2 separate regions of the Homo sapiens genome follow, and region 2 is linked to region 1. The links come from fine-mapping of genetic effects on gene expression. A gene starts in region 1. The other region holds a variant in brackets. All regions are shown on one strand. Distances are between the middles of the regions. Region 1 holds the start of CCDC42 (coiled-coil domain containing 42). Region 2 has its middle 19 kb from the start of MFSD6L.

Region 1 (4,387 bases):
AGCACTTGAGGATTTTGCCTGGAGTGGCACTAGCAACATGCTGTTTTAACACTTTCACCTTAGAACACATTTTGGTGTCTGGCAGTGGACATTCCCTCTCATTCTTCTTTTGTGATAGTTCCTTAAGTACTCAGTTCTCTAGATGAACTTTTACATTGTTTTGTCAACATCTATGGGGAAAAAAACTCTCTGAAATTTTGATTGCAATCGCATTAAATTCCTAAATTCATTTGGATGGAATTTACAGCTTTACCATACTGAACCATCATTTAGACATTTTGTAAGTCTATTCAGTTATTTTATATCCTCAGGAGAGGGGAGGGGAGGGAAGGGAAGGGAAGGGAAGGGAAGGGAAGGGAAGGGAAGGGAAAAGATGGGGATAGGACAGACCTCTGTAAATCCGAGACAGCCCTGCGTCTTGCTCAGGGTCCCTGGGAGGGCAGTGAGACTCCAGAGAGGGATGGTGGTGTGCAAGGATCACGAAAACTCCCATGATAGGTACCAAACCAAGCAGCAGAAAGAGCTTCCAGATACGAGGAGACCCTTGGGCAGGAGCAGAGGATGTCTTACACCTACCTCTATGGACCAACCTGGCCCTGGACCACCTGATTTCACGGACAATCAAGGATATGTCTCATATACGTGGCGGGGAGGGTGATTCCAGAAACAGATGGCTTCCTCCTCAAGGGCTGGCGTTGCACAGCTCCTAGGCACGACCTTAAAGAAAGGGAGGGGAAGCCCAGATTGACTGTGCCAGCCTCTGTGGATAAACAAGGAAACATGCCCCTCCGAGGAGCTTGAATCGTTCTTGGCGGTCTTATTGTCGCCCTGCTGGGCGTGTTCCTCCGGGGCTCCGGTGGAGAACCACCTCTTGTTTAGGGTTGGGGTGGCCATTGTGTGGGTGTGTTCTGCGTGGGGTAGGGACTGTCTTGCTTTCTCTGCTGAGCCCACCGGACTAGGTGGAAGCGACAGGTGTGTGTGATGGTCCGCTCTGGAGGGGAGGCTCCGGCGGAGCGTGGGAGGGGAGCAGGGCTGGGGTGGGCCGGGATGGAGGGCGCGGCAGACGGCCAGCAGGGGGCGCCAGACGACCGGCAATGCGGCGGGGCGGACTGGCCGCGCTCGGGACACGCCCCCGCCCGAGACCCCTAGCCCACCACAACCCACGCACCCCACCCCGCTCCCCCTCCCAGACAGAGAGAAGCGGAACGGGCGGTGTGGCGGGCGTGGCGGCAGTAGCGGGCGTGGGAGGGAGGGAGGCAGAGAGAAGAGGGAGCCTGCGCCTGGCGGGAGCGAGCTCAAGGTCCCGGCCAGAGTCCAGCCGGAGACCCCAGGGCGCCCTCCGCACACCCGCCGTCCCACGCGAAGACGTCCGACCTCCAGCCAGATGAGTTAATGCACGCAGCCTGACGGGATCAAGGAAGGCGGCCACCACGGAGTCAACATTTTAAATAGGGTCATTTCCGTTACCGTGTTTTGACATTTCTTCCCGTTTTAAGTTTATGCAAACAAAAACGCGCAGGGCCGGGCGCGGTGGCTCATGCCTGTAATCCCGGCACTTTGGGAGGCGGAGGCGGGTGGATCACCTGAGGTCAGGAGTTCGAGACCAGCCTAGCCAACATGGAGAAACCCCATCTCTACCAAAAGTACAAAAATTAGCCGGGTGTTGTGGCAGGCGCTTGTAGTCCCAGCTACTCGAGAGGCTGAGGCAAGAGAATCGCTTGAACCCGGGAGGCAGAGGTTGCAGTGAGCTGAGATCCCGCCATTGCACTCCAGCCTGGGCGACAGAGCGAGACTCCGTCTCAAAAAAAAACCAAAACCAAAACCAAAACCAAAACAAAACAAAAAACTGGCGCAGGCCCCGAGTCTCTTCTTCTGAGGGGCCTGGCCTGGGCCCTCCTCCTGTGCCTGTCCCCGCGCACCCCCCGCCCGTCCCCCCTTCCCCACCCGGCCCCACCGCGTGCTGGGCCCGCCGCCTGGTTTCTAACCTCGCGCCTCCTCGCGACTCCACCCCTGCCGCCGCTAAGCACCTCCTTTCTTTCTCTGCTCTTCTTCACCAAGGCCCGGCCCCTCCCTCACCCTCACCCACACCTGAACCCCAGGGAGGCCCTAAGAGCAGGGCGCCCGCACAAGGCCGCTCCTCCACCCGATGCCCCTTCTCAGCCACACTCACCAGAAACTGCCTCTGGCCCTGGGCTCCATGGCAACCAGCATCTAACCAGGCCTAATGCCTTCCCAGAAGTTCCTGAGGGCAAAGGGCAGGAGCAGAGAGCAGGACCCCAGCAAGGGGAGGACCAATGGGGGCAGGGGGCAGGGGGCAGAGGGCAGCGCCTGGACTCCACGTGCCGGCCACAGAACCAGGCAGCCTGTTGCTAGGTAACCACATCTCCCATAACTGCCCCAGCACATCGTCCTGAGCCGCCCAACCTGTCTCCAGCCACCTTCTGTGGAGTCTCAAACTCCATCATCTGTGGGACCCTGTAGGCCGAAGGGAGAAACAAGAGTGCAGCCACCACCCCTGAGCCACCTGTGGCTCTGCTACCCACAATTTCACTGTGAAGAGTCAGCTGCCTGGGCCGTGAGGTCACTGCCACCATGAGTCTGGGCATCATGGAAGAGGAAGACCTGGCCGAGTACTTCCGGCTGCAGTATGGGGAGCGGCTGCTGCAGATGCTCCAGTGAGTGTCTGAGGCCTGGCTTGCCCACCCCTCTGTGCCTGGGACCACTCACACCCACCCCATACCTCATCTTCCAACCGTCTGTCCCCTCCTCTCCTGTAACCCAGTGCCCCAAATAACCTTGGCACCAGTCCACCTCATCACGCTGGTCTCCACCCCGTCACCCTCCCCCTGCTCACTCCTGCATGGCCCTCTATGCTTCTCAACACAACAGCCCTTTCCCTCGGAAAGGGAGAGAGGCCCCTCTGCTTCCCCATGGGTATCTGTCTCCACGGGTTACTCCCAGCCCCAGCCTACCCCATGTCAGAACACACAGCCCTCTCGCGTTCACATCTTGGACAGGAAACTCCCCAATGTTGAGGGGGCGTCGGAGTCCCCATCCATCTGGCTACTGGAGAAGAAAAAGGAGACAGAAATCATGCATCAAACTATGGTGCAGAAGAAGAAGGTGGGGACTCAGGGATGGAGTGCAGAGGGGCAGGAAAGGAAGGGGGTGGGCTGGGGCTCTGGGAGAGCCTGTGGACAGCCCTCCATTGTCTGAGTGGGGTGGCTAGAGCCAGGAGTCCTCTATGGTGATCTGGTCTCTTTGGGGAGAACAGAAAGGATCTGGGTCTTGGGGGTACCACTGTCCAGGGATGCTCTGCTCTGGGCCAGGCATGGGGTAGAAAGTGGGAGGCTCCTATGGACCCTCTTGGGCCTGGGGATGGAGCCTCTGGGGCAGGGATGCTGGGGTCTTCCTTGGTACTCATGTCAGGAGCCCTCCTGACCTCTCTGCTCTCCCACCCCCACCCCAAAGATGTTTCAGCGCAGAATGGAAACCCTGAACCTGCGCTGGGAGGAACTGGGCGTTAAGGAAGCCCAACTGAAGGCTCACATCCAGAAGTCTGAGCAGTTCATCCAGGTTTGAAGGGGTGTGGGCGGCCGCAGTGGCCAGGGGATCCATAGTCCGCAGGTGGGCAAACTGCACTCCTCCTCCTTGCTTCTGCTGACTCCTCGCCCTGAGTTAAAAAGCATCCTTAGTGCTCCAACATTGCCTGGCATGTCCCTAGGCGTCCTTTATGTCCCCCACCTGTCTCTGTTTGTAATTTTCCATTTACCTATCAGTCTCTGCTCCCTCTAGATGGCTGTTTCCTATTTCTTTTCCAGTACCTAGGACATACAGTTTATTCAGTAAATGAATGCATGGATGAATGAATGAAGGTGCTACAGTTAGGACTAAACACTTGGGAAATACAGTGATGAATGAGACAGAGTTTTAGTCCCTCCACCCACCCCACCCCTCCATCCTTGTCCTTGCACTGAAGGTCCAGGCAGGGGATGGTTGAAGGACCAGGCACCAGAGTCCATTCCAAGACATCCTCTCTCACTTCAGTCTTTAGTGGAGCACTTTAATCGTCTTAAAAATCCAGATTTATCCAGACCCACTCCAGGTAGCACTTACGCAGCCCTGAAGGGCCTGGTCCAGCTCCGGGAGTGGGTAATGATTGCCGTCGGCCACAAAGAAGCCCCGCTCTTAAGCACCTTCCTTCCTGCTCTGTGCCTAAGCCGTGTGGGACAGGAAGTCCTTGGACTGGGCACATTCTCCAGAGGTCCAGTTCTTCTTAGCAGCCAGAGAAACACTTATGGAGTGGTTGGGGCAGAAGAGATTTGGGCGTGAGGCATTCTCCAAATGGCTCTCAGAGGGTCAGTAGCTTCAATTCCCAGAGAGTTTG
Region 2 (4,387 bases), 36 kb before region 1:
CTTAGAATTTCTATCTCTTTGTTTAAATTGCCCATCTGTTCTTGCATGTTATCTGCTTTATCCATTAGAACGCTTAGCATATTAATTATATTTGGGTTAAATTCCTGATCTGATAATTCCAACATCCCTGTCACATGAGTCAGATTCTGATGCTTTCTCTGTCTCTATATTTTGTTTTTGCCTTTTAGTATGCCCTGTAATTTGTTTTCCCCAGACATAATGTACTGGGTAAAAGAAACTTCTGTTCATAAGCCTTTAGTAATGTGGTGGTAAGGTGTGGGGGAAGAAGAGCATTCTATAGTCCTATGAGTAGGCCTCAGTCTTTTAGTAAGCCTATGCCCCTAGACTGTGAACTTCAGACGTGCTTCTCAGTTGCTCCCCTCTCCCCTTAGGTAAACTAGGATGGTTAGAGTGAACTGGAATTAGGGTTTTCCTTCTCCCACATGGAAGGTTGGAGGAAATTAGAGTTGAGTATTTCCCTTCCTCCATGTGGAAGCTACAGCTGGTTGGAATTGGATATTTTCCTTCCCCTAAGTTAATTACGCTCTGATAAAAACCCAGCAGGTTAGACTGGTTAAATAGTTTCTCCTAGAGGAAGGCTTTGTTGAAAAGAATGGAATGCATTGGTATTTCCAAATAGCTTCTTTTCCCATCCCCAGGATGGAAGCATGAGGGAAATTTTCTCAAATTATTCACTGTGAGAACCTGGTAGAGCTCCAGGAGGTAAAATTCACCAGAGTGTAGGGACCCCCTTATGCCTGGGTACCCCTGGAATATTTATCTCTCAGACTTGTCCATGCCGAGCCTCCAGCAACTCATCAAGTACAATGCCGGTTTCTACTTGTGAGTTTCTGCTTCCGTATGTTTTGATTCTCTGTATTCACCTCTCTGTCTCTCCAATCTTGGGAGCACTGGTTTATCCTGTGACATCACTTGTCTCACAGATCTAAGAAGAGTTGTTGATTTTCCAGTTTTTTCAGCTTTTTACTTGTTAGGACAGAGTGGTTACTTCCAAGTTTCTTAACATGCCAGACCACAAACTAAAAGTTCTGCATTTTCAAAAGTGTTAACCTCTGAGGGTTTTCTAGTTGTGATCGTGACCTTTGGTTCCAACTCAATTTTAACCAAAGTCAAATCAAAGTGTTTGAAGCTTAAAACTCATATTTCCACAATATCCTTTGCCCAGTTTTTGTTCTGTTTCTTGTCTTTTTTCATGTGGTTTTGCAGAAGTGTGTTGTATAATCTAGATATTAATCCTTTGCTGATTTTCATTTCGGAAATATCTTTGCCCAGTCTGTCACTCATTTGTTAACTTTGGTATATTTTTTTGAACAGAAAATCTTATTTTGATGTAATCAAAGTTTTTTATTTTCCCATTACAATTTATCTTGAGGATCTTAAGAATCTCTCTTGCTACAAGGATTCTAGGGAGAAAAATAAAATAAAATAAGAATCTCTCTTGCTACCCCCCCCACTTCCAAGTTAAAAAGATACTACATTTTCCATATTAGCTTTTAATTTTAAACTCTCATTTTAGGTCTTTAATTCATTTGGAATTTCTTTTGAATAGACTTAAGATAGGGACCCACCTTTATATTTCTCCACTTAGCCAGTTTTCAAAATGCTATAGACTAAATAATCCACTCTTCCTCTATGATTTCTGGCACTACATCTTTATACTTAAGTCTGCTTTTGAGTTCTCTAGTTTTATTAATCTATTTGTCCCTGCACTAATATCACACTAATATCACAGTTAGCACTTGGCTTTGTAATGTCTCAATATTTGGTAAGGTGAGTCTTTCCTCTTTACTCTTCTTTTTTAGGCTTTATTCTCCCTTATAAATTTTACAGTAAGTGTTTCACTTTCCCCCAAAAAAATTCTGGAAATTTTATTGGAACTGCATTGAATTCGTACATTAATTTGGAGGGATTTGGCATCCTTACATTGTTAAGCCATTTATCTATGAATATAGTATGTATTTCTATTTATTATTATTATTATTATTATTATTTTCTTTTTTGAGACGGAGTCTCGCTCTGTCACCCAGGCTGGAGTGCAGTGGCGCCATCTTGGCTCACTGCAAGCTCCACCTCCCGGGTTCAAGCCATTCTCCTGCCTCAGCCTCTAGAGTAGCTGGGACTACAGGCACCTGCCACCACGCCCGGCTAATTTTTTGTATTTGTAGTAGAGATGGGGTTTCACCATGTTAGTCAGGATGGTCTCAATCTCCTGACCTTGTGATCCACCCGCCTTGGCCTCCCAAAGTGCTGGGATTACAGGCGTGAGCCACTGCGCCCGGCCTCAAAACTTCTTTATGTCCTTTAATAGTTTTAAATTTTGCTCCACAAAGATCTTATGTAGTTTCATTATATAAGGTCGTAAGTACTTGACAGTTTTTTATGCTATTGTAAAAGATCATTTTGTATATTTTTATATTTTCTAATTGGTCATTGACAGTGCAAACAAACCCTATCAGTTTCTGTATGCTGGGCATCATCTCCAGCCATCTTGCTGAACTCTGTTTTTAGTTCTGACTCTCTATCTCTTAATTCTGTTGTGCTTACTATGTAAATAAACATTTCATCTGCAAATAATCAATTTTGCCTTTACCCTGCTAGCACTTGACCCTCTTGTTGTTATTGGTGGTGGCAGTGGTGGTGGTTTTCATGGTCTTGGTGTGTTAGCAAGGAATTCCAATGCCATGTTGAATAGTAGTGGTAGAGTAACCATTTTTGTGTTCTCAACCTTAAAAAGAATCTGTCTAAAGTCTTTGTCTGTTTGT[TTGTG/G]TATTTGATTTTTAGAGACAGGGTCTCACTCTGTTGCCTAGGCAGGAGTGCAATGACATGATCATAGCTCATGGCGTCTTGAACTCCCAAGCTCAAGTGATCCTCCCACCCGAGTCTTCCAAGTAGCTGGAACTATAGGTGCCACCATGACCAGCTAATGTTTTTATTGTTTAATTTTTGTAGAAATTCCTGGCATCAAGCAATCCTCCTGCCTCAGCCTCCCAAAGTGCTCGGATTAAAAGCACCATGCCAGGCTACATCTAAAGCTTCAGTATGATGTTTGCTGAAGGCTTTATTAAATTAAAGAAGTTCCTTTTTATTCCTGGTTTTTCATAACACTCATCATAAACTTTATTAAGCATTTACTGGATCTATTAAGATCATGTGGTTTTCTTCCTTCTCTAGTTTATTCCTGTGGTGATTGTATATTAATATACTTTCTGATTTTTTTTTTTTTTTTGAGACAGAGTTTTGCTCTTGTTGCCCAGGCTGGAGTACAATGGCACGATCTCGGCTCACTGCAACCTCTGCCTCCCAGGTTCAAGCAATTCTCCTGCCTCAGCCTCTCAAGTAGCTGGGATTACAGGCGCGCACCACCATGCCCGGCTAATTTTTTGCATTTTTAGTAGAAATGAGGATTCACCATGTTAGCCAGGCTGGTCTCAAACTCCTGACCCCAGGTGATCCACCCGCCTCAGCCTCCCAAAGTGCTGGGATTACAGGCGTGAGCCACCATGCCTGGCCTACTTTCTGATTTTTAAGTAAACATGAATTATTAGCTAACTCTAACTTGATCCTCATAAATTAGGATTTAAAAAATACACCGTTGGATTGGGGTAGCCAATATTTTATTTAAAATTTTTTGCATTAATATTCACTCTGTTTTCTTTTCTTTCACTTTCCTTAACCTGTTTTCTCATTATGATTATACTAGCCTCATAAAATAAATCAAGCAGCTTTCCCTCCTTTTTCTATTTTCTATTTTATGGAACAACTTGTATAACATAAGGCTTCTCTGTTCAACATATGGTAAAACTTGGTGCCTGGAGTTCAGTAGAGCCACTTTTCTTGTATTCAAGAAAACTTTATATACAAATGTTTATGTAATTTTCTATTTCTTCGTATGACATTTTACATTTTCTGGAAATTTATCCTTTTCTACCCAAGTTTTCAAATGTATTAGTGTATAGTTCTTGAGACTGTTGCTTGCCTACCTAATATCCATTTCCCCTCTTCTTTACCCACATTATGTCCCTGGCAGCAATTGTGTTCAAGTAAAATGTTCACCTTACCAGACTCTGCACCTTAAAATGTTCACCTTATCAGAAATTCTGCGAAGGATGTCTGGTAAAGATTTCTGCTTTCCAGATGTAGCCTCTACCTCCTCCTCTTCCCTTTCCTTAGAGGAGAAACAGCCATCTTGCAACCATGAGGTGAAAAGCATGAGCAAGAAAGTGCTATACTCAGTTGAACACAGTCCTTTTTGCTTAGTTACTCTTATCAGAGGTTTGTGTTTACTGTTCTCCCCCCAACCCCCCAGAAAAAAGGCTAGTTTTGGTTTAGCTAATTTCATCCATTGTCTTTGCTCTCTCTTTTTATT

What was found.
Region 2: its variant is fine-mapped to the expression of CCDC42 in whole blood (INTERVAL, PIP above 0.99).

What each region holds. Positions count from the first base shown.
Region 1 is chr17:8,742,815-8,747,201 of GRCh38, reverse strand. CCDC42 (coiled-coil domain containing 42) reads left to right here and starts at 2,366. Exons shown (of 7, transcript NM_144681.3): 1 at 2,366-2,675; 2 at 3,018-3,123; 3 at 3,472-3,576. The coding sequence starts at 2,593. It overlaps LOC105371529 (a long non-coding RNA gene), which reads right to left and starts at 2,276. Exons shown (of 3, transcript XR_934217.4): 1 at 2,171-2,276; 2 at 577-717. RefSeq lists a silencer at 1,054-1,323 and enhancers at 1,544-1,653, 1,714-1,933.
Region 2 is chr17:8,778,572-8,782,958 of GRCh38, reverse strand. No RefSeq gene overlaps it. Among named protein-coding and RNA genes, the nearest start is that of MFSD6L, 19 kb to the left of the region's middle. The variant TTGTG/G (reference allele first, on the strand shown) is at 2,784.